Linked DNA regions of Homo sapiens. The protein of the gene in region 1 interacts with the protein of each later gene in a biochemical or structural test. Each region holds a gene or a part of one and is shown in the gene's direction. Other genes may lie near its edges. The genes, in order: EDAR and EDARADD.

Region 1 (16,389 bases):
CACTTGAATCCCATTTTCTGCTCCTGGACACACAAAAACACTGCACTCCCCACCCTTACAGCAGTCAGCCTGGAGGCATGTGAGTAGATGCTAGCCAACTGAAGTGGTGTGCCACTGCTGGGCCTGGTCCTGAGCATCCCATGTGCTCATCCAAGCCTTTGCTCCTGTCTGACCTGAGAAGAGGCAGATGGTGGGGCCACAGGCTGGAAGGAGTTTGGGTTTCTGAGTCACTGCTGGCAGGAGAACCATCTGGAAAAGCCACCTAGCCCGCATCAGATGTGACATGAGCAAGAAACGAGCTATGATTGTATTATGCCACCGAGACTTCAGGGTTCCTGTGTTACTGCCACACTGTTGGCCTGTGCAGATGGATGTTGCTGGTAAGATCACTGATTCAAAGGCACAGGACAACAGCACAGCAGGCTTGGGCTCCATGCTCATGGGCAGGGGGGAATGGAAGTAGAAGTTTCCACATACTCTCTCCCAGTCAGTGAATCCCCTAGATCCCGTCTGGGGTATGTATTTCATTGTTGAAGTCCATGGCGCATACCGTTAATGGGCCTGCTTAATGAGGCCAGTGTCCTGGTGGCCACTCACCTATCTGGAGCCTTTCTTATTTACTTTGAGCTGCTCCCAAGGAGTGTGGTTGGACATTACCAGCCACCTTGAAGGCATGAGTAGAGGAGAGCTCTCTAGTGTCCAGCCCAGTTTGGGATTGTGAGAAACTGTGCTGGACTTAAACGTACATCCCTGCACCTGGGGTGTAAAGATCCCTAAACTGTGTGGCTTAGGGTGGAACCAAGACCCAGACTCAGACCTTCCTGGGGTTCAAACCTGGTCAACACCAGAAGCCTGGCACCTATCCCCACTGTTAGGCAGCAGGGAACTCTCACTCTTCACTCCCTCTTCCCAAATCAGAATCTTTCCAGTTAGTCAACACTTCATTTCCTTGGGGAATCATTTTATACTATGAATGATACCCCAGCAGAACTGATATGAAAGCTAAAATTGCCATAAAGCAGACTTTCTTAAACCTTGCTTATCTAGAAAAGAATAAATTGCATATCCCAATTTTTCATAATGAGAAACTGCAAATTAATTAGTCTTTATTAATAAGGCCTGGCTACAGTGGCTGAAAGACATGAGGGTTTATTCTTTCCCATGAATGAGGCAGGTAATTTGGGCCTGGTGGGGCAGCTGCACAAGGGGTTGGAGCTCCTTCCGTCCTACTCTGATGTCTACCCAGCTGTCATGTTCACACTCCAGGTGGCAGCAAAGGGGACGCATGGAAAGGGGCAGAACAGCTTCCTCCCAGATGAGTTGGCAGCCTTTTTGGAAGTCTCTGACACCTGCTGTGGCTCATTGGACAGTTCTGAAGCACGCGGCAACATCTAACTGCAAGGGAAGCTAAGAAATGCAACCATTTAGCCAGGCATATTGCTCTGAGCAGAGCTGGGAGATTCCTGCTGGAGAAGGGAGGCTGGGAAGAGGTGGCAGGCAGCAGCTCTGCCAGCCAGGGTGAATTCCTGTTAAAATGCCTGTTTATTCCCATTTTGGCTTTCTTTTGCTGACCACAGCTTTGGGGATCTTTGGACAATGGGTTCATATCCATAGCAGGTGAAGAGTAAGGGAGAACTAACATGCCCCCTGCAAGAACACATTAGCCCTTGTAAATCAATCGTTCCTCTGCCTTACAGATTACCTGCAAAATGTTGTAATAGGTGTGATTTTTAATTTCATTAATTTGGCCAGGCACACCTGTATTCCCAGCAACTTGGGAAGCCAAGGTGGGAGGATCACTTGAGCATAGGAGTTTGAGGCTGCAGTGAGCCGCAGTCTCACTACTTCACTCCAGCACAGGTGATGGAGCAAGACCCTGTCTCTAGAAAAAAATCCATTGATTAATAAATACTAATAAATAAAACCCAATGCGGCCGGGCACGGTGGCTCATGCCTGTAATCCCAGCACTTTGGGAGACCGAGGCGGGTGGATCACGAGGTCAGGAGATCGAGACCATCCTGGCTAACATGGTGAAACCTCATCTCTACTAAAAATACAAAAAAATTAGCCAGGCGTGGTGGCGGGCGCCTGTAGTCCCTGCTACTCGGGAGGCTGAGGCAGGAGAATGGCGTGAACCCGGGAGGTGGAGCTTGCAGTGAGCCGAGATTGCACCACTGCACTCCGGCCTGGGCGACAGAGCGAGACTCTGTCTCAAAAAAAAAAAAAAAAAGATATATATATATATATATATATATATATATATATAACCCAATGCACAGATAATTTTTTATGTTTATACTATGGACCCATACTTCCCTGCTTTTAGATATCCACTGGTTAATAGCATGATAATCCCATGACCCCATAATCCCCTTTCCCCGGAGCCATGATTTATGATAGAAATATGTACTTGCCTATTGGAAGGATGAATTTGTTGATTTTCAAATGAAGATATCAATATTTCATATTTCTAAACTCAGTTTTCTCCCCTCTTAATTTTTCTGGTATAGTGCAAATAGGTTTTATAATACTCTTGTGGTTTCCTTTATTAGAAAAACATAGTGATGTGTACTGTTGAGCTAAATGACAATATTACAGATCGTAAAAAAGATTTAGTATTTGAACCTTTGCACTATTCAAGCTCGTAAAGCCATTCTCAGCGAGGATCAATTTCAATTATGTTTTCACTGCTTACATAATGGAGGTGGTGGGGGCCGTCTCAAACCCTGGCTGGGGAGCAGAGAGAGCTTAGGCCACGGGAGAGGGCATGCCTTTGCCCTGCACGAAGCTCCTGGCCTGAAGCTTTCCTTCATCCATGGAGGTGGTTCATTATGGTCCTTCCTTTATGTGACCAGAGTCATTATTGACAGCTGTGTTCCAAATCCAGCTTGCATTTTTAATAAGGTGTCCATGGGGGGAATCCTGGGCAAATGGGAAGTGCTGTGGTCTGGGTGTCTGTGTCTCCCCTGAAATTCATATATTGAAATCCTAAGCTCCTAGGTGATGGTATTTGGAGGTGGGGTCTTTGGGAGGTGATTAGGTCATGGAGGCTAGAGATGGAGCCTCATGAATGGGATTAGTGCCCTTGTAAATGACACCCCAGACAGCGGCCTCACCCCATCTGCCATGGGAGATGACCAGACACTGGGTCTGCTGGGCACCTTGATCTCGGACTTCCCAGCCTCCAGAACTGGGAGAAACAAATGTCTGTTGTTGAGGCCTCCCAGCCTACAATATTTTTGTTATAGCAGCCCAAGCTAAGGCAGGTAGCCAAAGGAAAGCCAGGCTTTTGTTTAATCAGTAGCAGGGGGTCAGTGTTCAAAGTTTAGTTAAATAACTAAATGCAGAATCTCATTCTCCAATAGGGTACAATCAACGCAAAGCCCAGCTCTTTCCTCTGCCTTTGACCTGGAGCTGTCCCATCTGAATTTATGCTGGGGGAGGACAGATCACCCAAGCTTGACAATGGTTCACATAGCATTTCATCTCCCGGTATCTAGGTGACACCCTAAAGGCCCTCCCTCTGTGCAAATACTCCCCCAGACTTAGTCTCTCCCTTTCCTCATTTTGCTAAGGATAGTGGCCCATTTTACTTCTAAAACAAGTTTCCATCATTTTCAAATCATGATATACTTGGAATAGAATCCATACCCTTTTGTCCAGCCCCCACGTGGAATGTGGTCTCTACCACCCTTCCTGGGCTGGGCTCAGCTGCCTCCCAGGCCAGCTCCCTGCTTTGTGGCCACAGTTTCCTGTCAGTTTCCTCAGCACACCTGGCTCTGGGCCCCACAGGACCTTTGTACAAGACCTTTGGTCCATCTGAAACACCTTCTGCCCAACTCTGCAGGACTGCCTTCTTCCTTCGCAAGTCTTGGTCAACTTTCCTTCTCAACAACCAAAGCACCGCCCCTCACACCCCCTTACCCCCACATCAGCTTGCTGGTGTCCGCCGTATCACCCAATTCCATTCTCATATTTTAGGCACATTTGCAAGCCTAGGAAGGTGTGGTTCCTAAGAGAGACTTTAAATCACAAATATTTATATTCCTGTTTTTTCTGCCTATGGAACTGTGACCACATGAGTAGCGGGTGCTCTGAGATGATACTTTAAAAACTAGCTGGCCAGTGCTGAGGAGGGCAGAGCCCTGTGAGGTTACCACTGACAGAGCTGGGGACAAACGCATTTTAGGAAAGCAAAGAAGCCAGGCCAGGTCAGTCCTGGGAGCCACTGTGCCACGAGGCAGGGGCAACGTTCTTCCAGAAAACAGTCCCAGTTGTGGGACAAATTTGAAGCTGCAAACTCTACACTATAGACAGAACTGTGATCATTTTATTCTGAATAACTTAGTGGGTGTCACCATGAGCATAAAAACATTTCATCAAATATACACACACTGTGTTAGGATTTGAGCAATGTCATTTCCTGGAAGGTTTTCTGAGATAGACTTCACCTGCAGGTAACCAGAAGTTTACTTGCTGTGGTGAGTTGTTAGGTGAAACCAATTATATGTCAGGGCCCAGCTGCCAGACAGGAGCATCTTGCTTTTGGAGTGTTTGATTCCCCTGCCACTTTTTGAGACAGTAATTAGTAGCAGGAAACTGTCACCAGCCAACTGATAATCCCCTCACATACAAACACAAATAATCCAGGCATCCTGTGCACCCTTGCTTATCACGGCCAAGAAGTACTTTTCATCTCCATTTCATAACTTGATTACTCTATGCCTCCCCAAACAGAGCATAAGCTTCTTGAGGCCAGCGATTTTGACTGTTGTTCTCATTGTGATCTACCCAGCAACTGGAACAGTACCGGCACGTAGAAGACGTGACGTGCATTTGCTGCATGAATAAACACATGAACATGATGGCATAGGAGAATGCTACTTTGATGGGGTACATGGGTATCAAGGATTTTCTTTCTGCTCACACAACATGAGATTTGTAATTAAGACACAGATTTAAGGTGAGTCCGGTGGCTCACACCTGTAGTCCCAGCACTTTGGGAGGCTGAGGCAGGAGGATCACTTGAAGTCAGGAGTTCGAGACCAGCCTGGCCAACATGGTGAAACTCTGTCTCTACTAAAAATACAAAAATTAGATGGGAGCAGTGGCACATGTCTGTAATCCCAGCTCCTCGGGAGGCTGAGAATCGCTTAAACCTGGGAGGCAGAGGTTCCAGTGGGCCAAGATCACGCTACTGCACTCCAGTCTGGGCGAGAGAGCAAGACTCTGTCTCACCAAAAAAATAAAAGACACAAATTTAAAATCACGATGACCAGAATATGGCTCTGTTTCACTCACTGGAAATTATCTGATCTGCAAGATAATTCTTACCAACCCCTGAGTGTTTTTTACAGGGATGGGAGTCCATTGACTCTCTAAAATCACTTGCGAAGTTTTGTTGCTGCGGAGCTGAGAGCTGGGGCCAGCCTGCCTGTTGTGCCCCTCCATAAGACTCCTGGCCATGCATTTGAGCACACCTCATGAAGGGGGCAGGTGGCTGGCCGGGCTGTTATGTGTAGCAAGCATGTGTTCTAAATTACAATTCATTTGTTCTAAATTACATTCATCATTTCTAAATTTGTTCTAAATTTAGAACACAGCCCCAGGAGACCCCCTTCACCCAACCATGTTCTGCAGTCTTGATTCATTTTCTTACTTAAAAAATGCTATTGATAACCTGTTGCTATTTCTGCCTCAGTCTCTTAGGAAATGTATAAAACAGAAAATCACATATCTTCAAAGCTCTGGAGCTTTACATGATGAAGATAAGCAATGATTTCTCATTTCATTCTTTCTCTTAATCAACTGAATTAATTATATACTCATTTTCATTTGGATATGATGACTAGGCAGACTTCAAGTATAACCATCCATAACCTTGCTTAATGCCATGATGTTTGGATTTTTTTCAAAGAGAGGAAAAAACTCCCTTGGCTTCTATTACAGCATCCATATTTTGTGCCATTTTAATTTTTTCTTGTGTCTTTTTTCTCTCTCTTTGGGAAATATCAGTATCATTCCTTTTGGTAAATTTTAAATCACCACTTAATTTCCAATAGAAAAAATGTTTTAGTTACACCTAAAATAATCCCAAACCTCAAACACACTGTGAGCACACCAGAAAGTAAAAATTATATGGAGTAGAACAGATTAGCCCAGAATACCTCCCATTCATTTTCCCAGGTTCCTAATTTAATAATTTCAGTGACTTTAATTTATCACAGACCCTCAGTCTGAACTCGGCATGAGCAGGGTAGACAACCAAACCTGAAAATTCAAGTTAAAATTCTTGTTTGGGAGCTTATATTATCTAGATTAATCATCCACAAGGATCAAGTCAGCTAAGTAACTCTGGTTCAGCTTAATCTCTGTGGAGGCAGAATTAGTCCTTTACAGTCTAGGTCCTTGCCCCAGCCCCATACATTTCTGTCTGCTTTTTTCTTTTCTTTTCTTTTCTGTTTTGAGACAGATTCTCGCTCTGTTGCCCAGGCTGGAGTGCAGTGGCACAATCTCGGCTCACTGCAACTTCCATCTCCTGGGTTCGAACAATTCTCCTGCTTTAGCCTCCACACATGCCACCACCGGCTAATTTTTGTATATTTTTTTTTTTTTTTTTTTTTGAGACGGAGTCTCGCTCTGTCACCCAGGCCGGACTGCGGACTGCAGTGGCGCAATCTCGGCTCACTGCAAGCTCCGCTTCCCGGGTTCACGCCATTCTCCTGCCTCAGCCTCCCGAGTAGCTGGGACTACAGGCGCCCGCCACCACGCCCGGCTAATTTTTTGTATTTTTAGTAGAGACGGGGTTTCACCTTGTTAGCCAGGATGGTCTCGATCTCCTGACCTCATGATCCACCCGCCTCGGCCTCCCAAAGTGCTGGGATTACAGGCGTGAGCCACCGCGCCCGGCCTAATTTTTGTATTTTTAGTAGGGACGGAGTTTCACCATGTTGGCCAGGCTGATCCCAAACTCCTGACCTCAAGTGATCTGCCCGCCTCAGCCTCCAAAGTGCTGGGGTTACAGGTGTGAGCCACGGAGCCCAGACTGTTTCTTTCTTAAGCTCTTACTTTCTCATGTGTGAGTTACCTTGTAGGTTTCCAAGGCAGAGGGGACAAGATGGAAAAGGAGAACACAGAAATCTAGCCTGGAGGAGCTGCTCTGTTCCTGTATTTATCTGTGTAGGTGTGAATGAGGGAGAAAATGACAAGAGAATGACATTATTTTAAGGCTGTTTTCCCCCCCCCAATCATTTACTTTTTGAGAAATAATTGCCCAATACTGAAAGGTATGTCCTTTCAAAATGTTGATGTTTCAAATGGCTTCCTAATTACCTAGTTATACGGGGGGTGTGTATGGTTATCTGAAGTTACATGGGTATACACTGGTGGTGTGAGGTGTCCAGAGAGAGGAAAGGAAGAGCAGTCCTGGTGGCTCAAACCCTGAGGGATGTGCGGGGGATGGGTGAGAATGTGAACAGACATGTTGGAAGCTGAATCCGTGCAGTGGCACCCATGCCTGTAGCCATCTCAGTGGGGGGTCCTTCTACGAACAAGCTTTGATTAATGATATTTTAATGCTAGTTTAGCTTTTTAGCACTCCCACGCCTAAAGGCTCTGATAGAAGCAAGGCCCCCACCCCTGCAAAAAAAAAAATCCATGATTTTTACGCATTCCAACAGATCTCTTAAGGGGCAGACGGCCGGAGAGCCAGGTGTGCCAGGGACCTATGGCAGCAGGGCTGAACGTGCCCGCTCCAGCCTCTCCAGTGCTGGGAGAGACCTCTAGATGGTGCAGGTGAGTTTGCAATGAGGGAAAGCCCCTCGGCAAGGACTGAGTTTCCAAACTTGCAGACAGGGCAGGGAGCGGTCAAGGAAGAGTTCCCGGGAAGCCCTTTAAACGGAAAGGAAGCGGGGCTAGTGTCAGAGAGGTGTGCCAGGTCCCAGGCAGCCCTGCTGGCCCCTAAGGACATAGAGTACCTGCTTCTGAGAGGGCTGCCACGGTGGCCACCTGTGAAGCCTGTCACCCAGAACTGGATGGTACCTGACTTTCTTCATAGACCCATCTTCTGCTGGGACTGAAGCTGACCTCCAACAGAAGCCAGGTAAGCCCTGGTCCTTTCCTCTGGTTTTCTAAACTCTTCAGCTGTGGCCGAGACGGAGGTGTCATGGGCTGGGAGAGAGGCTGGGTGCATTTTTGAAATGCATGTCATTTTTGGGTTGCGTTTGAACAAGCTTTACCGATTGCAGTATGTCTGCGCTACCAGTTCTAAGACCTGAGATTGTTCCTTTGTTTTAGAAAAACATCAGAAACCCTGTTTTGCTGTTGGTTGCACATTTGGTTAGGGAGACAAATTCTGTGTGTGCTTCACAGGCTTTAAGATTTGGGCTACTGAAGCAACGGGTTCCTCCAGGGAGCGTGAAAAGTATGTTTCTCAGGTTTGCCCCTGTGCCCGGCTCACTGGGGAAGGCAGGCGCGGCAGGGACTCTAGCTGGGCTCTGTACCTGCCTCCAACTCTGCGTACCCGCTGTGACCTAAGAGACCTTCCAAGTGGGGTTTCCAGTCGTGTCTGAGACCCCCCATATCCTGGCCTCTGTGTTGGTGGCGGGGGAGCGGGGAGAGGGAGAGAAGGAGGGGAGTGGGTACCTATTTGTGATGATTGAGGTTTTCATTTCCAGCCAAGAGGTTCCTCTCAACACTCTGACAGACCGTGGGGTGGGTTGGGCTCCTAGACAGGAGTCGGCTCTGATTCAGTCGGCTCTGATTCCCAGCCTCCTGCAGCAGCCAAGCTTTGAGATGTCAGCTCAGGGAGAAGCGGGTGGCTGGGCAGGGAGGTCAGCAGGCGAGGTTCCCACTGGGTTTCCCTGCCCATGTTGTGCTGGGTCAGCAACAAGAGGGACAGTTAAAATCAACAAGCAGGGCAGATGCCGGTCAGTGGGCAATCCCACACAGCCAGGGGTACACGCATGTGAGGAGACGTACGGAGAGACAGGAGCACCACCGTCCTCTTCCCCAGTCCCCAGGCCACTGCTCTGTGGCTCTCAAGTGGCATTTTTGAGACACTTTCTAAGCAAGAGTGAAAGTGTAACAAAGAAGTGAAGAGCCATAATAGACTGAAGGAAAAAAGGGATCCAGGCATCTAAAATAGAGAATGTTTCTTGCCTGGCTTAATACTCTGAGATTTGTAAGTCATAGCCACTTAAAACCTTTAAAGATACATTTTGACAGAGGCCACCAAAAAGAGAGTGACTCTGGTCAAGGCTTGGAAATAAGCGTTCGTTCCGATGACAGTCCACGTGTACCCTTCACGGCTGGGAAAGTTTGGCGATCCTGGTGGCGATTGGCCGGGGGTCTCCACTGTACCCCTCCCCATCCCTAAGTGGGCCAGGCTGTGCTGTGGGAGGATTAATTTGTGACAGCACAGTTGGAGGATAATCTTGGAAGGACCAGTCTTTGGGAGGAAAAAGTAAATACACTTTCCCTGAAATGCTTGATTTTCACTCCCTGGCCACTACCTGGTTTCTTGCTTTTGTGAGCTGGACTTTCATTTTGTTGGGCATACACATTTGTGAAGCACAGACATGTCAGGGGCTCATCTTTGTTTCTCAGGCATCATGGTACCCTCTTGCCTAGCCCAGTGCCTGCCATTGGGCGGCAGCCCAACATTGCTCCGGAGTGCAGACAGACCTGGTCTTACCCCATCTCACGGAGCGCAAAACCTACTTGCCTCTGTTAAATGGGGAGCCTCTTCTAGTCAAAGTTCCTCAGGTCTCATAGGCCCACAGATGGAAGCTGGGTTACCTGACGCTCCTTTCTGGGTCCAAGTGAGTGCGTTTTGTGGTTTCCAAAGAATAGAATTTATTCTCAAGGAAATGCCCAGGAACCCAGCTTCAAAGACTCAAGCAAATCTGAAATTCAAATACAGGAGCTGTAAACAGGATGGTGTTTGGCAGACAGCCTTGCTGCTTAAGTGGCTCAGCCCCTCAGCTGGGCTCAGTTTCCCCTCACCCTCCTCCTAGCCTGCCTAGTGACTGCCTGCATGCCTCAATTATCCTGGATGACACCTGCCTGCTCGTTCCTTTGATGCTGTTTGAGGCTCTGCCTAGGTATTCCACCCACCAATAGTATCATTAATTAACTTACATTAAGCCCACTTAGCACATTAGATCAATTAGGGGACAAAAGCCCCAGCCAGCCTTTCCTGTGAGTATGCCGCCTCCATCTCAATGCCTACGATTCTGTCCTTACTGAATTCGTATATTGCAGGAAGGAATTTTTTTTAAGTCCCAAAGATTACTATTTTCCTAAAAAATAAAGCAAGGAAACATAAGCTGATGTCTAATCATTTAACCTCTGCTGTACATTTCTATGGCACTTTACAAAGCGTTGTCATGAATGTCTTCTCTATTTTCCCAATAAGGAAATTGAGGCTCAGAGAGGTTCACTGTCTTGCCCGAAGTCCCACAGCTCATAATGATTATGGGAACACCAAGAACTGGTCTAGGTTAGCACTCAGTATGCCCAGGCCTCGTGTGGAGCCTGTCACTCATAATTGGAGGGGCTGAGACTAGAACCTGTGTCCTCTGCCTCCAACACTGACACATTTGCCCCCACAAGGAGATGGTGCAATGACAGCCACCAGGGATTATAAAAATAAGAGTGGAGTAAGCAAACACTCCCCCTCCTGTATCTTAGTTTCCCAGGGTCGTGTCAGCCCCAGACACACTCATCTCCTGTCCTCAGAGGCGAGGGATCAAGAGGAAACAGTCTCAGTTTTGTTCTTTGTGAACCCTCCTGATAAAAGTTAGAGTGTTTGTAGTTTTTATATAGTGAAAAAAACTGTCAAATATAGGCCATTGTAGGTGGTTCAGTCTAAGATAGTCTAGTAACTAAAAAAAAACTCAAAATGGCATTTGGGGCTCAGGCATCCCAACAGCCCACTGGCCCCTGAGACAAATGAGCTTGACCATATTTAATTTTTCATCATTGCCCTTAGAGTGTCACAAAGCATTACCCAAGGATAGCTGACCCTGTACAGTCAAAGCTATGAAAAAAGCTTTGCCCTGGGTCTTGGCAGGGATCAGCCATTCATTAGGTCATGTATTAAGGGATCCTACAACCTGAAGTGTCTTCAGTCATAGCACACCCCAAGGACATCATGCACTCCATGAAAATATGTCCAATGAATGAATGAATGAATGGGCTCCTTCATCCTTCTTGTCAGAGAAAGGTCACCAATTGTTCCAATGACACAGTTAGGGACAAGGGGGCTGCTCAAACATCAGCATCCCCTAAGTCAATAAGCAAACAAATCCTAGTTAGCAAAGCTACCCTCTCTGGGGGCAGAGACACCTGTTATTTCTCAAATGCTGGATGCCCAAGGGTGGCAAACACACTGTTTGGACCCCAGGAAGGAGCAGACACATGTGGGTGAAGCTGGAGGTCCTGCTTCCTTGCCCAGATCCTCTTGCCCAGACACACTCTGGAAATGCCCATCATTTTATACACCTACGTACACATGTAACCAGCCAGGATGCCTTTGTTTTCCATTTCCGAGAAAACAGAGGACTATGGAAAACAGGTGGGCCGTAAGGAGCCCTACAGAGGAAGATGCACCTGTGGCGGTAGCCCTGCCTGCACCACCCTGCGAGCTCATGCCAGCTTAACTCACTTCACGGTCAATCAGACCTACTGCTCCAAACACAGTAGGAAGGCGCGCCTTCACTTGTGAGTCGGACGAAATCAGCAATGAGGGCAATAACAACCACAGTCACGTTACTCTTAGTAACAGCCCTGAGGCCCGCAGTGTAGCACAGAAGCCAAGCTTAGTGGTGGGCTTAAGGCTGATGTTGTTAACTGATACCATTCAATAGCTAGATATAGGCAACTAAAAGGTGAGCCCAAATACTGAAATAAGATACAGTATTAGTCTCCTGAAAATAAAAAAGAGTTGATTCTGCCAACAACACCTTAATCCTGAGAGAAAGCACTTTCTTAGGATAGAAGAAAGACATGCAAAACCAGACTGCAAGCAAAAAATGAGAGGGCATGCACTGTTTTGACGACTCTCAGATGGTTACCAAATCTCTTCTCTTAAAACTTCCATTTGCCATATTTCCAATCCCATGTTTGCACAGAATCCTGCATGCACAGGAGGAAGCAGGCAGGATTTCAAGTTGGTTTTAGTGCACATTCATTCATTCAGCAAATGTTTTCTGGGCATCTGCTACATGCCAGGCACCATGCTGGGATGTAGTGAGTAACACAGTGGTCCCATGGGTGAGGAGAGAGAACATCCCTGCACTCACAGAGCTTAGATTCTGCTGCAGGGAGAGAAGCTATAATGCATAAATCCAGCGCCATGAAAAAAAAACAAACAAACTAGCAGGGCAGGTAGAAAGAAGGTGCCCAGGGTAGTAGTGGGGGCCTCTTGGGAAATGAAATAGTTGAGTAAAGACCTGGATGAAGTGAGGGAGTGAACCAGGACACCCGCAAGAAAGGAGGCCCTGGGGTGGGGTGAGCTGGAGATGTCCCAGCACCAGCAGGAAGGCCATGCTGCCGGAGCAGAGGGAAAGGAGGGTTGAACAGAAGGAGAGGAGAGGAGAACCAGGAGCCTGAGCGGGCCGTGGCAAGGGGGCTGGGCTCTCATTGAGGGTGATGGAAAGGCAAACAGAAGTCAAGTCAGGGCGGAAGTTCAGCCATGGTGGCTCACGCCCTGTGTTGTTCTGGGACAGTCAGTGCCCACACCACCCCATCCCATGCCACGCCGGTTGCTGTAATTTGCTTCTAAGGAGCTGGGTCTCCAAGTAGCCTCTTCCTGGGAGAGTTGGCTTGGCTGAGGTGCAGGGCAGGAAGGGCAGGCAGCAGGAAGGGTGGCAGGAGAGGAATGATCCATTTTCACCAACACCTGCTCCCTTGGCCGTTAACACATGCCAAAGGGATCCATTCTGAGAAAAATTATGAAGACCCTAACCTGAAACACATGATTACACTTCCAAAAATCTGAAAGTAGATTATCAAGACTCAATAAGTTGTGCAGAGAAAGAACACTTAGCAACAGACATCGCCGTCGCCCCCCTTGCAGCCCTGCTGGGACACTCCCACAGTCGCAGAGCCACTGGCCAGCTGCACTCGCTTCCTCCTCACTTGGAGAGAGGGACACCTTCCAGCATCGGGTGTGAGATGGAGTGGGGACGCAGTGGCTCTCTGATGGCTCAGTTGGCAAAATTGTTGGAGAACGGGTTCAGAGATCACTGATGCCCTTGGCCAGCATGCCAGACCTGTTCCTGTTGACTCCATATGGCCTTTGGAGTTGGAGAGAAGGTGGCTTCCCTGCCCCGTCCCGCACGGAGCCACCAGCACCTGGAAAGTTTGATTTCCTTCCTCGTATCTGGAAGATGCAGGTCGATTAGGAGGGAAGTCAGTCTGGAGGAGGATACCTGTCTCTGGGAACTCCAGGGCAGTCAAGGCAGACAGATGGATCACGAGGGAGGAGCTGGAAGGGCGGGATTGTTGACTTGATGTCTGGTTGGGGTCTGATGAATACAGGAAAGTGGAAGGCCACGGGGAATGCTCCAGTGGGATGCAGATGTCTATTAAGTTGGCTGATTTTATTTACCCAGTTAGATGTGGTTTTATGGTTTACTGTTTGGATTGAGGCTCTGTGTCCTTGGGTAATAAACATTACCTCTGGCCCCAAAAAATCCTAATCCTTAAAAATATGGAAATGCACTGAGCATCCCTAAAAGGTACTTTAGAGGAGTCTCAAGGTTCATTTTCTTTAAGATTTAGTCCTTAATAAAGACTCAAAATGGCTGTTCCTAAAGCCTCCTGTCCATAATGAAGAAGATAAATCAGAGTGTACACTTTGGGGATGTGTTTGTTGACATGCGGCATCCTCTGCAGAAAGCCTGTATCTCCAAGAAGCGTGGCCAAGGGAGGGCACTGACAGCTGAGTTTAGAGTGGGATTTGTAAGCAGCACAAACTAATTGTGCATCGGTAGATTTGCAGAGTGTGGTTTTCTGTTGATGGATTTCTTTATGGGCAATAAAATCTCCAATAAGTACCATTTACATTCAGCAGAACTCTTTTTGAATTTTAGCTCATTCTTAGAGAGATTTGGAGAGAGAGAGACCATCCCTGCACATGCAGCAGGCACCTGGCCTGTCTGGGTGGCCAGTCCTTGTTCTGTGGCCACTGTGAACCCCGCCAATGTCCTAGTTTCCCGCCAGCACTCACTAAGCAATTTTGCTTCTCATTTTACGGGCAGACGTAACCAAAGCAAGGAGACTTAGGTGACTCGGGACACTCGGTTTTGAGTCAATTCTAAAAACCAGGAGACCAAACTTTCTCTAGAATTACTGCCAGTTGGTTTCCAAATTGAGGTTTCCAGATGAAAATTATTATCCAAACAGACCACACACAGCACTCTGACTTGCCTTCTGTGCCTGGCATGTGCGAGGGAAATGGCGCTGGAGAATATTATCCTGATGATTATCACAGTTGTTGCTTTTGAAGGCAAATATTTATTTTGTGAAGATTGCAAAATGAAGTACAACAGAATGTTGAGCTCCTCCTTATGTTTACAGAATAAACAGAACTGAGACACTGGCAAACGCCAATGTCCCTAGTTCTTAAAGGACTGGCTGCATGCCTCCCACGGCATCAGTTAAAGCAGGAGCCTCTGGAGATGGAGGCCTTTGGTGGCAGGACAGCCTCCCACCAGGGAGGGTCTGAGGCTTCCACCCACCTCCCTGGGTTCATCTCTGTAAACAGCTCTCCCAGTGTGGGCTGGATGGGGTTTGAGGTGGCTGCTTTCCTGTTTACCCTGGAACATTTCTTTGTTAGAGAGGCCACTGCATTTGCTGTAAGACAACGGGCTCTAGATCTTTCTCAAGGCTTTGGGAGATCTAATAGAAATAAAAGACCTGGCCCCTATTCTCATGGCCTAAAGCATTGAAAGGAGGAAATAGGAGAGATAGCCAAATTGCATGGTGCTGTTACTGAGCCGTTAAACATCTGTCCCTGCCGTTGCACTGACTGTGCCCTCTTTGAGGACGGGAAGCATCCGTCTGTTCATTCTCTGGCACCTAGCACAGTGGCTGCACACAGTAGGTATTCAATAAATGTTGAAGAAACCCACATTTATTGGGCATTTGTTGCTTCCTTAGCGTTTCCGTCTTAATCTGCACAGCAGTCCTGTGAAATAGAGACAATCATCACTGCTTCACACATGTGCAGAGTAAGGCTTGGAGAGGTGAGGTGGCTTGCCTGAGACCTCCCTCCTGGTAAGTTCATGGACTTCGCCTTGCTGTCGTTTCCATGGGCTCGTTCAGAAATGAGAGCTGGGATGATGTGGGCTGTTTCAAATTAGCTTGAAGTCTAACCTTGTATCATAACTATCTCGGGTGTGGGGATAGTATATATCGAGCAGAGGTCTAGGTATAGACAGATGTGTGAAATGCTAAACATGGCTGAACTCCCCAGAGACACCTCAGCAGACAGCCCTGCTGGCTAGCCCCGGATCCTGGACAGGTGTTGTTTGGGCTGCAGGATGCTGGGAGCTAGAGCGGAAAATGGAAGCTTCTCTTTGTATCCCCAAGGCCAAGAGCAGACCTGGCCAGCCATTCTTCTCACAATAGCAGTCATACCAGACCTAAGACGCGCCAGACAACTTCAACCTCAGGAGCCTTTCTTCTTCCCTGAAGTTGGGGTGGACTGGTCCTGGTGGGGTTGGACTGGCATGGGCTAGCCACCTGGGGCGGGTGCGGCTCTGGAAAGAATGCTGGCGGCAGGGTGGGGAGGAGCCCAGCCTCAGGTGGACACAGGCCCAGAGCCAGCCCCTTCCCGTGCTGGTGGTGGAACGTCAGATCATCATTGCTGGGTAACTTCTGTCACTTCAGTTCCCCGAGGGAAGGTCACATACTTGCCTCATGGGAATATTATGTGGATTTCCGAGAGCCAAGGCAGGCAGAGTGCTTAGAGCGGGCCGTGAGCACATTGGAAGTCCTGCTCATGCTCTGTATGCACTCACGGGCTGAGTTTAACGGGTCAGCTCAACCTCTGCCTGGCAGTCATTCCCACGGTCTAGTCCGTCAGAGGTCCCTGTCTTTCCTTGGAGCAGTCTATCAATTTGGCCAGGTTTCAAAACACCATGAGGACCCTGCAGTTAAGGGGCAGCTACACGGGGGTTGGTGTGGGGACACAGCAGGCTCTGCCAGCCCCCATGGAGTATGGTGCCAGGTTGGCCACCTCCCCACCAGTGACACCGTGACCCCACTCTGGCCACACTGATTCAAGCTCAGGGCTGCCGCATTTGTTCCCTCTGCCCAAAACGCGCTGGCCCAAGATGTCTGTGTGTCTTGCTCATTCCCTTCAGGTCTATGCTAAC
Region 2 (16,523 bases), on another chromosome or scaffold:
CTAGCAGCTCAGCGCATAATAGGTGAATGAATGCTAATGCATGGACGGTGACTCGCGCCTGTAATCCCAGCATTTTGGGAGGCCAAGGCGGGTGGATTACTCGAGGCCAGGAGTTCCAGACCAGCCTGGTCAACATGGCGATACCCCGTCTCTACTAAAAATACAAAAATAGAATTAGTCAGGTGTGGTGGTGGCACGCACCTGTAATCCCAGATACTGGAGTGGCTGAGGCACGAGAATCGCTTGAACCTGGGAGGCAGAGATTGCAGAGAGCTGAGATCATGCCACTGCACTCCACCCTGGACAACAAAGTGAGACTTTGTTTCAAAATAAATAAATACATAAAATAAAAAGACTGCTAATGAAGGTAAAAATCAAATGGCTTAATCAATCAATCCCTCACTTCATCCTGACTTTTCAACCCTGAGTTAAATGGTTCTGTATTTAAGGCTAAATAACTTTAAACATTTACATGGTGCTAAAATTTCTGTTATAATATATTTCTGCCAACCTTAAAGTTTAGAGTATGGCCTTGAATTCTGTGACTAAAGATTAGAATCTGATGGAACAAAATCAGTTTTTAAGCTATTTTGTACCATCTTCACCACAGGTGGGAAAACTGTGAAGTTAACACAACTTTGGAATGGAAGTTGCTTCCTAGCAATTCATATGGAAAGATGTTAAATGTTTAACATGAATTTCAAGTTCCTTTGCTTTTCACTGGCAACCTGAACTTGAACAAGAGAACCAAAATGGTTTAGGTTTGACCTTTAGGAGGGTGAGCTGTTGGGACAAGTATAATCCCACTCTCTACTGTCTGAAAGGCTTAGTAAAATGACAGACGAATGAACACACTGGAATTTGATATCACGTTGTTAATCAGGGGAGAATTTTTTTTTTGAGATGGAGTCTCGCTCTGTCACCTAGGCTGGAGTGCAGTGGCACGGTCTCGGCTCACTGCACTCCTGAGTTCAAGCAATTCTCCTGCCTCAGCCTCCTGAGTAGCTGAGATTACAGGCACCCGCCACCACACCAAGTTAATTTTTGTATTTCTAGTAGAGATGTGGTTTCACCATGTTGGCCAGGCTGGTCTCGAAGTCCTGACCTCAGGTGATCCACCTGTCTCGGCCTCCCAAAGTGCTGGGATTACAGGTGTGAGCCACTGTGCCCTGCCAGGAGAATGTGTTTTGATTGTCTCCTCTTCACCCTGTTGGTGAGGGAGGGATTCCATCTTAGGGTTACAGGGATGGCCAAACACATGACACTCAACACTTAACAGATGAGATCGACAGGAATTTATGAGTCATGTATACTCAGTCCAGGAGGGGAGGACACTGTGCGTCATGCAGGGCCACATGGAGGTTGCACTTAGGAGCAGAGCAAACAACAAGGGGCTGTCAGACAGGCTTTATGGTATTAAGCAAGTGGGGTGCCTCCTGGTTGTCAGGATGTGATTGGCTTGTTTGAGTTAAGTCCATGGAATCAGGGGAAATGAAGCCCATTACAAAAAGAGAACAAGGACTGTGCGTGGTCCCCTTGGTAAGGGGCGTTGTTTGGCTAGGGGACTTTGGCCATGGGAGCAGAGTGGGAAGGAGACTTGTGGTTAGGCCATTCAAGACCTTCCCAGTTCTTTTTTTTTTTTTTTTTTTTTTTTTTGAGACAGAGTCTCACTCTGTCGCCCAGGCTGGGGTGCAGTGGCTCAATCTCGGCTCACTGCAACCTCTGCCTCCCAAGTTCAAGCCATTCTCCTGCCGCAGCCTCCTGTGTAGCTGGGATTACAGATGCCCGCCACCACGCCTGGCTAAGTTTTGTATTTTTAGTAAAGATGGGGTTTCACCATGTTAACCTAACCTCTAACTGGTCTCTAACTCCTGACCTCAGGTGATCTACCCGCATTGGCCTCCCAAAGTGCTGGGATTACAGGTGTGAGCCCTTCCCAGTTCTACCAATGTCAAGGCAGCACATAAATTGAGTCTCAATGTTAGGTCTTATACAACAGTTCACCCCTAGATGCCATGGCATAAATTTAAACCTTAATGATGGCTGAGACTTCTAGGGAATAGAAGTGCCCCACTAAGAAGCAAGGAAGGCACTTGACCAGGAGGGAGAGGGCCACATGGTGAGATGGTCATCAAAAACAGGAACTTTAGAGGTGTCCCCCTGATGGCCAGTAAAGGCAGTTGAGGAACCCGTGTGGCATTGGTGTAGGGAGTACATGTCTCCAGAGGTTGTGGATTTAGATTCATTAAGGCCTGTGACAATAGTGACACCCAGTAACTTACATAGGAGTTTCTTGAAGATTTCATTATGCCTCTCAATCGAACCTGCTGCCTGATATGAGAGGGGAGGTGGAAGTTTCATTGAATGGCTTAAGAGCCTGGCGTTGTATGTTCTTAGAAGAGAAATGAGTGTCTTGCTCACTGTCAGTAATAAGTGGGACTCCAAAGGAGACTGGAAATGTTCTGCTGAAGCCTTGTATGGTGGCCTTGCTGTACATAGAGACATCTGTTTCTTTATTTATAGTTTGGGTGTATTTGAGGCAAGAGATTCTGAGAGTTCTTTACCACAAAGGGTGCAACTCTTAGGCAATGGTCCAAAAATTTATAAAAACTGTGCAGATGGGGCGATTTGTTGGCCAGGACATCCAGCAATAAGATGACTGCCTGAAGTTTGGCCAGTTTTGCTAATCTTGGGTCCTTCCTTTATCAGGGATATCCTGGTTAAGGGATGGAAAGCAGCAACTGTCTGCTGAGCTTCATCGTGTATGATGGGGGTGATGTCATCTGTAAAGTCTACAAATTCCCATTGCTCTTCACTCAGTTGCTTTGAAGGGGCTCCCCAGATAACCTAGGAGTCTGCAAGAGGGGTGACTTTTTCCAGCACTATGGGCTCTGGTGAGGGATGGGGGAAGCCACCCCTTCCTGCAGATGGAACATGCCAGAGTGCCCGGGTTTAGCTCCATCCTGTATCAAGGAGGCCTTGGTAACCATGCGGAGCTTCCAGGATTTTGCTTCCATGACCCAAGGCATAATGGACAGCGCAGTATGGAGGGTCACAGCTAGTGTTTAATGACAGCCTCTATTTCCAAGAGAGCCCAGTATGCAGCTAGCAGTTGCTGCTCTAATAATGTGTAGAACAGGGCCTGGGAGGGCAGTTTCTTGCATCAAAAGCCTGTGGACAACTTTCAGCTATCGTGGGTGGTCCAGAGACTTCAGGAGGAATGAGAGGAGGTTGCTGAAGCTCCAGAAATCTCTGGGGGTCCTAGTGGGACTGCCTGTTGTAGACTTTTATTGGAGGGGCCCAAATTTACATTGAGCTGACTTGCAAGTACTGGCATCAATGAGATTAAATTTGTAAATGAGAAATATGTTGCCACCAGAACCCAAAAAAGAGCTAAAAATATACTAGACTTGTATTCACATTGTGGGTGCAGAGAGGGTCAATAGCTATTTATTGACAGTGTCTGGGTGGGAGCAGCCCTTAGTTTACCAAGTAATTTTTAGGAATTTCACCAAGGTGGCAGGGCCTTGCGCTATGTGTGGGGCAGTGGCCCATCTCTTTCCGTGAGCATTGTTGTGAGTACTGTATTCCGTGGCCTGCATGAAAATGTCAAGTGAGAATGTCCTCAGAGGAGGATCTCATCCATGTAATGTCATCACACTCATGAGACTGAGAAAGTAGGATGCAGTTAGATCTTGCCTGCAAAGCCTGTGTGTGATGACCAGGCTCTTGAAATGCCCCATGGGTGCCTTGTAAAGATATATCATGTCCGTTTGCAGATGAAGGCAAACTTTGATTGAGAGACTATTGAGATAGTCACTGAACAGAACATATTAGGCAAATCTGTAATAGCAAAATATTTTCTAGTCACTAATTGGATGGAGTCAGTGTTTTCCAATCATTTTAGGCATGGGGTATGGAAGCCTTAAGGGATGAGACCACAGCAGTAAAAGTGTAGTAATCTGGCTAGATGCGGTGGCTCACACCTGTAATCCCAGCACTTTGCGAGGCCGAGGTGGGCAGATCACTTGAGGTCAGGAGCTCAAAACCAGCTGGGACAACATGGTGAAACCCTGTCTCTACTAAAAATACAAAAATTAGCCGGGCGTGGTGGTCGGCACCTGTAATCCTAGCTTCTTGGGAGTCTAGGGTAGGAGAATCACTCAAACCTGGGAAATGGAGGTTGCAGTGAGCTGAGATCGCACCACTGCACTCCAGCCTGGGTGACAGAACAAGACTCCGTCTCAAAAAATAAATAAATAAAATAAAATTGTAGTAATCCACTGTGAAGCATCTTTTTTTTTTTTTTTTTTTTTTTTGGAACAGGACGTTGCTCTGTCACTCAGGGCTGGGGTGCGGTGGTGTGATCATGGGTCACTGCAGCCTTGACCTCTGGGAGCCAAGTGATCCTCCCACCTCAGCCTCCCAAATAGCTGGGACGATAGGCATGTGACACCATGCCCAGCTAATTTTTAAACTTTTTGTAGAGATAGGGTCTTACTGTGTTGCCTGGGCTGATTTTGAACTCTGGGCCCTCAAGCAACCCTCCCATCTTGGCCTCCCAAAGTGCTGGGATTACAGGTGTGAGCCACCACACCCAACCTGTCTTCTCCTTTGTGTCCAGGTTTCTTTTTATCTTTCTTTCATTCCCTTTTTATGGTCACTGGATATACTTTTGGCAGGGGCAGTCTTCTCTACTCTGCTCATATTGATAAATTTCTTCCCCCAGAGAACCTCAAATCAGTATCATCAGGGGTGGGGCCTTCCCTGTGGCAGTGGTTGCTCTCATATAGTTTAAAAACTGTGGGCTTGTGTCAGGGTGAATTAACCCTTTTACTGTGCCCCGGGGCTACTAGGAGTTTTCCCTACAACTCTGAGGATCAGGATCTTTGCTGCAACAGGGGCATAAGCTGCAGCGTGGTCCAGCCCAATGGAAGAGTGCTGGCCTATAACCCAGAGGTGGAGGGACTCTGCTACAACTTTGTCTTTTCTGCCATGAGGGTTTTCCTTAATTAATTAACTAATTTGTTTATGGATTTTTTCCTGTCTTGTACAAATGCCCTCAGAATATTTTGGATTTCTAGCCACATAAAGTTGTGGCTTTCAGTTTTTGTCTCCATATGTCCCAAGGGACCTTCTGGGAGGTTACGAGCAAAGTGTTGGGAGCCAGGTGGCCCCCGTCGCAGGCAGCCACCTCTTCCTCCAGGGAATACCAGTCGGTCTCCCTGGGGATGGGGTCCTCATCCAGCCAGGTGGTTTTGTCTGTGGCCCAAGTGGGGACATTAAACCCACTATGGCAAGATGAGCTCTTTGGCGTGTTGGAAGCAGCAGCGCTAAGCACAGCTGGGTGCGCTCGCCAGGGGCTCTGTGCCGAGAGAGCAGTTGAGTACCAAATGCTTTTTCCCGTTTTCTTTCTTCATTAGCACCTGGGCCACAGACTGCCATGGCTGTGTACCTCGATGCCCCTGGGGGTCAGGAGAACACATGGGCAGCAGCAAGGGAAGCAGCAGCTGAGGGGATGGGCAGGGTCACTGCCTTTGCCTTAGCAGCAACCAGGGCACCAGGGAAACTCCCCTGGGGAACTCCCTGGTCTCTCTCCTTCCTTTCTGCAAACCTCTGTCTGCAAAGGACCGCCCCCGTGGCTGACCTGGGGATGCACTTCACAAACAGTGCCTGTACAGCTGCCCCAAGTGGCCAGTGATGGTCACCAAGCTAGTTGTATTGCTAAGAGAGCTTGCACCTGTCCCTTGATAAGTGGGACTTAAGCAGCAACCGGTTAGGGGGATGTGCTACCACCGTCTTTACAGATGGGAGCCTCAAGAGACCACCTGCCAAACACAGGCCCAAACTGACAGCTCTGGGGTCCAGTCAGTTCACAACAGTTTTCATCTTGGGATGAGATACCAAACAATCAACAAAGACAACACAGCATTGCATAGGCCAGAGTGCAAATCTTCCAGTAATTGTCAATTCTATCCCAGGCAGCCTGCGTGGTATTAGTGAAGTTGGTTAGCCGAGAGCAGTTAATGAAATCTGACCAAATGTCCTTGATTGTGGTTGGGTCATCCTGTTCATTATGCCAGTTGTTTCTTTTCTTTTATTTTTCTTATCTTTTTTTTTTATTTTTTTATTTTTGGAGACAGGGTCTCACTCTGTCCCCCAGGCTGGAGTGCAGTGGCATGATCGATCAGAGCTCACTGCAGCCTTGAACTCCTGGGCTCAAGTGATCCTCCTCTCTCAGCCTCCCAAGTAGCTGGGACTACAGGCACACACCAGCATGCCTGGCTAATTTTTAAGTTTTTTGAGACTGGGTCTCACTGGGTTGCCCAGGCTGCTCTTAAACTCCTGCCTCAAGTGCTCCTCCTGCCTCAGCCTCCTGAATAGCTGTCATTACAGGCGTGAGCCACCACTCCTGGCTATCATGCCAGTTGTTTTGATCACCTTCTCCTCACCCCTGCTCTAGGATTATGGGGATGGACAAACACACACATCCAACACTGGAGAGACAAGATCAGCAGCAGTTTATGAGTCACATATATGCACAGCCCAGGGGAGGAGGACACTGCCCATCACACAGAGCCACGCAGGGGGACACAGATGTTGTACTTGAGAGCAGAGCAAAAAACCATGGGCTGTGTGAGACAAACATTGTGGCATCAAAAGGGTAGGCTGCCTTCTGGTTCCCATGTGAGTTCGTGATCAGCCTGTTTGAATAATTCCACATGTTGGTAGGAAACTGAAACCCACTACCCAAAAAATAAGCAGGGGGCAGTCACAGTGGCTCACACTAGTAATCCCAACACTTTGGGAGGCCAAGGCAGGAGAATCACTTGAGGCCAGGAGTTCAAAACCAGCATGGACAACACAGTGAGGCCCTATATCTTACTTAGCTTGGTGTGGTGGCACATGCCTATCTTCCCAGATACTTGGGAGGCTGAGGTGGGAGGATCACATGAGCCTAGGAGTTCCAAGTTACTGTGAGATGCACTCCAGCCTGGATGACAGAGTGAGACCCTCTGTCTCTTATTTTTATTTTTTTGAGACGGAGTTTTGCTCTTGTTCTCCAGGCTGGAGTGCAATGGCGTGGTCTCAGCTCACTGCAAACTTTGTCTCCTGAGTTCAAGTGATTCTCCTGCCTCAGCCTCCAGAGTAGCTAGGATTACAGGCATGCGCTACCACTCTTGGCTAATTTTGTATTTTTAGTAGAGACGGGGGTTTCTCCATGTTGGTCAGGCTGGTCCCAAGCTCCCAACCTCAGGTGATCCGCCTGCCCCTGTCTCTTATTTTAAAAAAATAAATAAAAAATAAGCAGGAATTGTGCCTAATCTCTTGATAAGCAGCATTGTTTAGCTGGGGGATCTTATCCTTAAGAGCAGAGTTTGGAGAGGAATTTGTAGTCCAGCCCTTCTGATTTTACCAGATGCCAAGGCAGCATGTGACACTGAACCTTAATTTTAGGTCTTACACCACGGAGTGTGTGCTTTTTAAAATCACACTTTGTTTCTTTCTTTCTTTCTTTTTTTTTTTCCTAGCTGAAGAATGTGATACAATTACTTTGAACTGCCCACGAAATTCAGATATGAAAAATCAGGTAAGAATAATTTCAACTATATTTTACCCTTAGGTACATGATAATCCACCTAAAATTTTTTGAGATTTATAGAGTTTTACAAATAAAAAATGAAAAACAGGATTTCTAGATCATAAACAGGGTTTGCAAATGGTCTCTAAGCATCCCAGTAAGGTAGCATATCTTTAGAACTTTTTTACTTCTAATAAATATTATAGCTTTCATTCATTCTTTGAAATACTCTTCTACATGCCAACAACAGAAAATCAATGCTGGTGAGTTAGAAAGGAGAGTTGTTTTCTTTCTAATGCAGTTGGCACTCTGTGGATGAGCAAATTCTTTAAGGCACAACAAAACTAGATACTCTAATATAATACTTGTAATGCTTTATTAAACTTTAATTTTTTTAGATATCAGAAGTCAAACTTTAACATATTATTTCTATTATCTTTTTCCAAAAAGGAAATATGTTTATTGTTTTATGATTATAAAAGAATTCATATTTTTTAATTGTAATTTTTTTAATTTATTTATTTTATTTTATTTTATTTTTTTAGTATTTATTGATCATTCTTGGGTGTTTCACAGAGAGGGGGATTTGGCAGGGTCATAGGACAATAGTGGAGGGAAGGTCAGCAGATAAACAAGTGAACAAAGGTCTCTGGTTTTCCTAGGCAGAGGGCCCTGCCGCCTTCTGCAGTGTTTGTGTCCCTGGGTACTTGAGATTAGGGAGTGGTGATGACTCTTAAGGAGCATGCTGCCTTCAAGCATCTGTTTAACAAAGCACATCTTGCACCGCCCTTAATCCAATTAACCCTGAGTGGACACAGCACATGTTTCAGAGAGCACAGGGTTGGGGGCAAAGTTATAGATTAACAGCATCCCAAGGCAGAAGAATTTTTCTTAGTACAGAACAAAATGGAGTCTCCTATGTCTACTTCTTTCCACACAGACGCAGTAACAATCCGATCTCTCTTTCTTTTCCCCACACTTCACCCCTTTCTATTCGACAAAACCGCCATCGTCATCATGGCCTGTTCTCAATGAGCTGTTGGGTACACCGCCCAGACGGGGTGGCGGCCGGGCAGAGGGGCTCCTCACTTCTCAGATGGGGCGGCCAGTCAGAGACACTCCTCACTTCCCAGACTGGGCTGCCGGGCAGAGGCGCTCCCCACATCCCAGACATGGGCGGCCGGGCGGAGACGCTCCTCACTTCCTAGACGGGATGGCGGCCGGGAAGAGGCGCTCCTCACTTCCCAGACTGGGCTGCCGGGCAGAGACGCTCCTCACTTCCCAGACGGGGTGGCGGCCGGGCAGAGGCTGCAATCTCGGCACTTTGGGAGGCCAAGGCAGGCGGCTGGGAGGTGGAGGTTGTAGCGAGCGGAGATCACGCCACTGCACTCCAGCCTGGGCAACATTGAGCACTGAGTGAGCGAGACTCTGTCTGCAATCCCGGCGCCTCGGGAGGCCGAGGCTGGCAGATCACTCGCGGTCAGGAGCTGGAGACACGCCCGGCCAACAGGGCGAAACCCCGTCTCCACCAAAAAAATACGAAAACCAGTCAGGCGTTGCGACGCGCGCCTGCAATCCCAGGCACTCGGCAGGCTGAGGCAGGAGAATCAGGCAGGGAGGTTGCAGTGAGTCGAGATGGCATCGGTACAGTCCAGCCTCGGCTGGGCATCAGAGGGAGACCGTGCAAAGGGGAGAGGCGGCAGTACAGTCCAGCCTCGGCTCGGCATCAGAGGGAGACTGTGCAGAGGGAGAGGGAGCGGGAGCGGGAGAGGGAGAGATTTTTTTTTTTTTTTTTTTGAGGCAGTCTCACTCTGGAGTGCAGTGGTGCGATCTCGGCTCACTGTAACCTCTGCCTCCTGGGTTCAAGAGATTCTCATGCCTCAGCCTCCTGAGTAGCTGAGATCACAGGTGCGCGCCACCATGCCCGGCTACTTTATTTATTTATTTATTTTTTTAGACAGAGTCTCGCTCTGTCACCCAGGCTGGAGTGCAGTGGTGCGATCTCGGCTCACTGCAAGCTCCACCTCCCAGGTTCACGCCATTCTCCTGCCTCAGTCTCCCGAGTAGCTGGGACTACAGGCGCCCGCCACCATGACCCGCTAATTTTTTTTTTTTGAATTTTTAGTAGAGACGGGGTTTTGCCATGTTGGCCAGGCTAGTCTCGAACTCTTGGCCTCAAGTGATCTGTCCACCTAGGCCTCCCAAAGTGCTGGTATTACAGGCTTGAGCCACTGCACCTGGCCAGAATGTTCATTATTTTAAAGTTCAAGTTGTGCAAAAAAGTACACACAGAAAGTTAAGAATTGCCTGTCATTCCACTGTTCCACCTTTTGATATACATCTTTCTGGGGACTTCCTTGGTCAGTTACTTCTTGTACTGTCCAAGCCACCTCTGTTCTCTCTCCCAAAGCTCATTAGCAGAGTTGCTTAACTATATTTACAGCATTCAGTATCTCAAAGGCATGTTTTGCCTCAAATAGGCTGATTCAATTCTGCTCCTTCTATATATAACATCAAGTTAATTTGTAACAAGTTTTGCCTAGTCTTGCTTTAAAACATCACTCTGTAATAAAGTCTTTAATAGTAACATTGCTGGGTAGTCAAATCACCTCTGTAAGAAAGAGAAGTTACACAATAGTTGATAAAATAAGCAGTTTAAATTAAAACACATAACTGTCTTGAAAATGGTCAGTGGTGCTAGTTTTAACTTTGTTTTGGGGAATTTTCAACCATTAATTGTGAATATCAGACTTCACTCTTTACTCCTGATACTCAACATTTTCCTTGAAATTATAATCTAATAATGGGCTTCTGTGCTTACTGAATTTAAACTAGTTTAGTAAACTGAAAGTATAAATTTGTTCTTCTCATAATCCTAATTTTTAAACAAAATTTTGCTCCTCACATTTTTTTGGTAACATGTAGACTTCCTTGAAGATAAAAGAATGCTAAGTTTTTCATGTAGTTTACTTTTAGGGATTTTCCAAAACCACTTAAGATGAGGTACAGAATATATGTTAGCACACTGTTCAGCATTTTTCCTAATTTCAGTGTTATAATTTTGGCTATATCAAGTAAATACTATCCTAAAAGGTGAAAATATATTTATCAACTAAAAAAATAGGGGAAATACCTCTTTGAGATTTTTAAAGTTCTATTTTAAAACAAAATGTCTTCTTCTCCTATAAAAAGTAGTACTATAGGCAGCTGGCTGCTTCCGTTGACTATTTCTTTGTATAATCTATAGGATTTGTTTTAACTGCTAGATACTCAGAAGGATTCTTTGAAATGAACTTGGCAGTTAGAACAAAGAAAATTCACCAGGGAGAAACGTTTAAAAGAAGAAAACAACACACACTCCATTCTATAGTTCAGACATTAAAAGCAAGCTGGAGGCCGAGCTCGGTGGCTCACGCCTATAATCCCAACACTTTGTGGGGCTGAGGCAGGTGGATCACGAGGTCAGGAGTTTAAGACCAGCCTGGCCAAGATGGTGAAACCCCGTCTCTACTAAAACTACAATAATTAGCAGGGTGCAGTGGCAGGCGCCTGTAATCCCAACTACTTGGGAGGCTGAGGCAGGAGAATTGCTTGAACCAGCAGGTGGAGGTTGCAGTGAGCTGAGATTGTGCCACTGCACTCCAGCCTAGGTGACAGAGTGAGACCCTGTCTTAAAATAAATAAATAAATAAATAAAATAAAAGCAAGCTGGAAGTATGTTCTTTAGAATAATTATTATCTGCCTTTTTAGTGATTTTTATAATTTAAGACTAAAATCTGCTTCTACTAAGGATTTATTTGAGCTTCCTTTTTCGAGTGATGCCGAGGAAAAACATCATAGTGTCCTAGTGTCAAAAATTAAAGTCTAAGCCAGGCATGCTTGTGGTCCCAGCTACTCAGGAGGCTGAGGTGGGAGGATCGCTTGAGAACTGGAGTTTGAGGCTAGTCTGGCAACATAGCAAGACCTGTCTCTTAAACAAAACAAAACATTAAGGTCTGACATTTCAAGTGCAATTTCAGAAAGAACCCTTTACTTTTAGTTATTTAAAATCAATACCCCATCTACTAGAACTATTCAACTTCTACAACTTATTACAACTGGTATTTATTGAGGATATACTCTAAGACCAATCTGAACTGGGTATTCTTGGACATAAAAAATACAGGAGGAGGAGGTGGAAGTTAAGACCCCAGGCAGGGCCGGGCGCGGTGGCTCACGCCTGTAATCCCAGCACTTTGGGAGGCCGAGGCGGGTGGATCATGAGGTCAGGAGATCGAGACCATCCTGGCTAACAAGGTGAAACCCCGTCTCTACTAAAAATACAAAAAATTAGCCGGGCGCGGTGGCGGGCGCCTGTAGTCCCAGCTACTCGGGAGGCTGAGGCAGGAGAATGGCGTGAACCCGGGAAGCGGAGCTTGCAGTGAGCCGAGATTGCGCCACTGCAGTCCGCAGTCCGACCTGGGCGACAGAGCGAGACTCCGTCTCAAAAAAAAAAAAAAAAAAAAAAAAAGACCCCAGGCAGACCTTATAGACTTGTTGGAGAGGCAGTGCACACAGTTTGATTCTCGGATGTGTGTAAGGCTCAGATGTGTAAACAATTTCCATGATACTTTAAGGAAAACATTTCCTAGGACCTTTATCAATCAATAAAGTTTTAATTACTTTAACGACATGCATAAGCATATGGCAAATGAAGATAAAGCAAAAATTTGTTCCAGCTGGGTACGGAGGCTCACACCTGTAATCCCAGCACTTTGGGAGGCCAAGGTCAGCAAAACCTGAACTCTACAAAAAATACAAAAATTAACCACACCTGTGGTCCCATGGTCCCAGCTGCTCAGGAGGCTGAGGTGAGAGGATCGCTTAAACCTGGGAAGCAGAGGTTGCAGGGAATGGAAATCGTGCCACTGCACTTCAGCCTGGGAGATAGAGCCAGACCCTGCCACCAAAAGAAAAAAAAAAAAATTGGGTTCCAGTTTGTAGCCAAGAATCCATGCCAAGAGGAGTCTAAGGTAATACAATAAAAATAAGAAAAATAATAAATATTAGGATACTAAGTTGGAGTTAGAAGTTATGAAAATAATGACATTGTCTTCTATGTTGTTTATTTGGATTACAAAACAAGTTTTTTTAGTTTTAGAAACTACATTAAGAAACTGCAGACCAACTCGGTGGCTCATGCCTGTAATCCCAGCACTTTGGGAGGCCGAAGTGGGCAGATCACCTGAGATCAGGAATTCTAGACCAGCCTGGCCAACACAGTGAAACCCCGTCCCTACTAAAAATACAAAAATTAGCTGGGCATGGTGGTGGGTGCCTGTAATCCCAGCTATCTGGGAGGCTAAGGCAGGAGAATTGCTTGAACTCAGGAGAGGAAGGTTCCAGTGAGCCGAGATCATGCTCAGCTTGAGCCTGGGAGGCTGTGGCTGCAGTGAGCTGTGACTGTGCTGCTGCACTCCAGCATGGATGACAGAGCAAGACTCTCAAAAAAAAAAAAAGAAAGAAAGAAAGAAAGAAACTACAATACCATTAAGTTATTGGCTCATTTACTTGCGACAAATGTATCCCACTAATGTAAGATGTTCATAATAACAGAAACTGGGGATAGGATATATATATAGGAATTCTTTACACTGTCTTCTCAAATTTTCTGTAAATCTAAAATGATTCTAAAATAAAAGCGTTACTTTAAAAAGCATACTAAATAAAATTTAGATTCTAGATCAATGAAAGGCGCATCGCCCATTCCACCACTCGAATACAATTATTTTTGTCACTTCGTTGTATTCCTTTGTACATTTTTGTATGCATAATTATAAAAACAGCAAATAACCCTGGGCGCGGTGGCTCATGCCTGTAATCCCAGCACTTTGGGGGGGGCCGAGGCAGGTGGACCACCTGAGGTTAGGAGTTTGAGATCAGCCTGGCCAACATGGGGAAACAGAAACCCTGTCTCTACTAAAAATACAAGCGATTCTCCCGCCTCAGCCCCAGAGCAGCTGGGATCACAGGCACCCACCACCACACCCAGATAATTTTTGTACTTTTAGTAGAGACGGGGTTTCACCATGTTGGCCAGGCTGGTCTCGAACTCCTGACCTCAGGTGATCCACCCACCTCAGTCTCCCAAAGTGTTGGGATTACAGGCGTGAGTCACCGCATCCAGCCTAACTCATATAGTTTTCAAAATGACCTTATGCAGGACGTACCATTATTATGCTCACTTTACACATCAAGATCCAGAGTGGTTAAAAAATAAAATAAAATAAATATAAAAATTAGCCAGGCGTGGTGGTGGGTGCCTGTTATCCCAGCTACTCTGGAGGCTGAGGCAGGATAATTGCTTGAACCCAGGAGGCAGAGGTTGTGGTAAGCCGATATCGCACCACTGCACTCCAGCCTAGGCGACAGAGTGAGACTCCATCTCAAAAATCAAAAACAAACAAACAAAAAAAACAAAAAAAAAAACCCTGCAAATAATTTGATATTGTTCTATATCCTGCTTTTGTTGTTTAATAATTCAGAAACATTTTATCCAGTTTGCTCCATGATTTTGCCATCCTGTTGCTCCATGGTCATGATGATGTCATGGTCAATGGCAGCACGGTATGCCCATCTGACACAGAAATAGATTCTAGGATGCGAGTCTGAGGGCCGGAGCCAGAACCCTCCCAGTAGATGGAATGATATAGCCCAAGCTTGTCCAACCCATGGCCTGCAGGCCTTATGTGGCCCAGGACAGCTTAGAACACAGCCCAACACAAATCTGTAAATGTTCTTAAAACATTATGAATTTTTTTGCTTTTTTTTTTTGAGATGGAATCTTGCTCTGTCTCCCAGGCTGGAGTGCGGTGGTGTGATCTCAGCTCACTGCAACCTCTGCCACCTGGGTTCAAGCAATTTTCCTGGCTCGGCCTCCCTGGTAGCTGGGATTATAGGTGCACGCCACCACACCCAGCTAAACTTTTTGGATTTTTAGTAGAGACGGGGTTTTGCCATGTTGGCCAGGCTGATCTTGAACTCCTGACCTCAAGCGATCCACCCGCCTCAGCCTCCCAAAGTGTTAGGATTATAGGCGTGAGCCACTGTGCCTGGCCTTTTTGTGATTTTTTTAAAGCTCTTCAGCTATCATCAGCATTAGTATATTTTACGTGTGGCCCAAGACAATTCTTCTTCTTCCAATGTGGCCCAGGGAAGCCCAAATATTGGACACCCCTGGTATAGACAGAGGATCTGAGGGGAGATTCTGTGACAGAGTGAACTTGGCCTGAGAGAGCTTAGGTGATGAGGCTGGAAGGTAAGTTGAGACCAGGGCCCCAGAGCCTTGAATGCCGGAGAGGGGTGGGTGGTGGAAGGTATTGGGGATTTTCAGTGATTTTCTCATGACCTTATCTGGGATCCTAAGGGGACTTGAAAGAAGATGAGACAGGCTTAAAAGCCTGTGCCTGGGAGATGGATGCTATTGACAAGATCAATAGAGAATTCAGGAAGAAGACCATCAGATGTGTGTGTGTTGTTAGGATTGAGTTTTCTTTGTTGGTTGGTTCAGAAAGAGGAGATAAAGGTGTGTGGAGTTTGGGGTATGTGAGATTTGTTGTGCCAGTGAGACTGCTTGTGTAGATGACACAGCACTAGGTACTGTGCTTAGGATTCATGCATTGGGAGGTTATAGTTGAAGCCCTAGGCATGGATGAGACTGTCAAGGAAAATCGTCCTTATAGGAAAGCGGAGAGGTTAACCAAGATGAAACCTTGAGGAACACTTACTCTTGGAGGTCAGAGGAAGAAAGGAGCTCAGAGGTAACTAGAGGAATAGCCAGAGAAGAAAACCATCTGTGCTCAAGGCAACGATTCTTTCCTTCATAGCACTGATCCTAGTTCATAGTCACATGTTTGCTGACTATTTCATTGTCTTCACCCATTGATTAGGCTATGCCCCTTGAGGGCAGGGACTCCTGTGTCTTTTTGCTCATAATTGTATCTTCAATGCCTACTACATAGTAGGTCCCAATAACTGTGTATTGAATAAAGAAAGGGAAAAGCCAGGGGAGGGCATCGCTTCACATGTCGAGGAAGGAATGGTCACCACCCTCAGGAGGCACAGCGTGGTCAAGAGGGAGACCTACCAAGATGTCATTGGATTTACTTGCAAGAGTTAAGAAGTGAGTATGAGAATGTTTATGCAGTTCTATCCAGAAATTCATTAAGGTAGCAAAGAAAAATATTAAAATGTTATTTGAAGATATTGGAAAGTACAGAAAAGGCTTCCTTTCTACTTTTCAGGATGAGAAACTTCAGGATTTTAGAAAGAAAAAGGATCAGCAGGAGTGGAGGATTAAAAATAATAGAGAGAAGGGGGATAATACGTGGGATGTTTTCCTATAGAAGGTAGAGGGGATTCATTTTCTTAGCAAATATTTATTGATAACATATGTTTGGTAGAAAACACACAGCACTAGATTTTCCTCAAGGAATCTGTAAGCTGGCAAGGAAGTCAAGATATATGCACACATAATTTTGATAAATAAGAGTCGTCAAAGGCATAGAGAGATGAATTTGCATTTTAAAAGTAAAAACCTCAGCCAGGCATGGTGACTCAGGCCTGTAATCCCAGCACTTTGGGAGGCCGAGGCAGGAGAATTGCTTGAGACCAGGAGTTCAAGACCAGCCTGGGCAATAAAGTGAGACCCCATCTCTATTAAAAAAAAAAATGTCTTTCTTTCCTTTTTTTTTTTAGATGGAGTCTCACTCTGTCGCCCAGGCTGGAGTGCAGTGGTGTGATCTCAGCTCACTGCAACTTCCACCTCCTGGGTTCAAGCGATTTACCTGCCTCAGCCCCCGAGTAGCTCGAACTACAGGCGTGCACCACTGCACCCGGCTAATTTTTGCATTTTTAGTAGAGACCACCATAGGTCTCACCATATCGGCCAGACTGGTCTCT

What was found.
Region 2: the proteins of EDAR (region 1) and EDARADD form a complex in vitro, tested with the Homo sapiens proteins (one study listed by BioGRID).

What each region holds. Positions count from the first base shown.
Region 1 is NC_000002.12:108,980,673-108,997,061, reverse strand, and holds the start of EDAR (tumor necrosis factor receptor superfamily member EDAR precursor), read left to right. Parts: upstream 1-7,841; 5' UTR 7,842-8,102; intron 8,103-16,389. UniProt on the Homo sapiens protein: Receptor for EDA isoform A1, but not for EDA isoform A2. Mediates the activation of NF-kappa-B and JNK. May promote caspase-independent cell death.
Region 2 is NC_000001.11:236,419,860-236,436,382, forward strand, and holds part of EDARADD (ectodysplasin-A receptor-associated adapter protein), read left to right. Parts: intron 1-7,532; coding exon 7,533-7,591; intron 7,592-16,523. UniProt on the Homo sapiens protein: Adapter protein that interacts with EDAR DEATH domain and couples the receptor to EDA signaling pathway during morphogenesis of ectodermal organs. Mediates the activation of NF-kappa-B.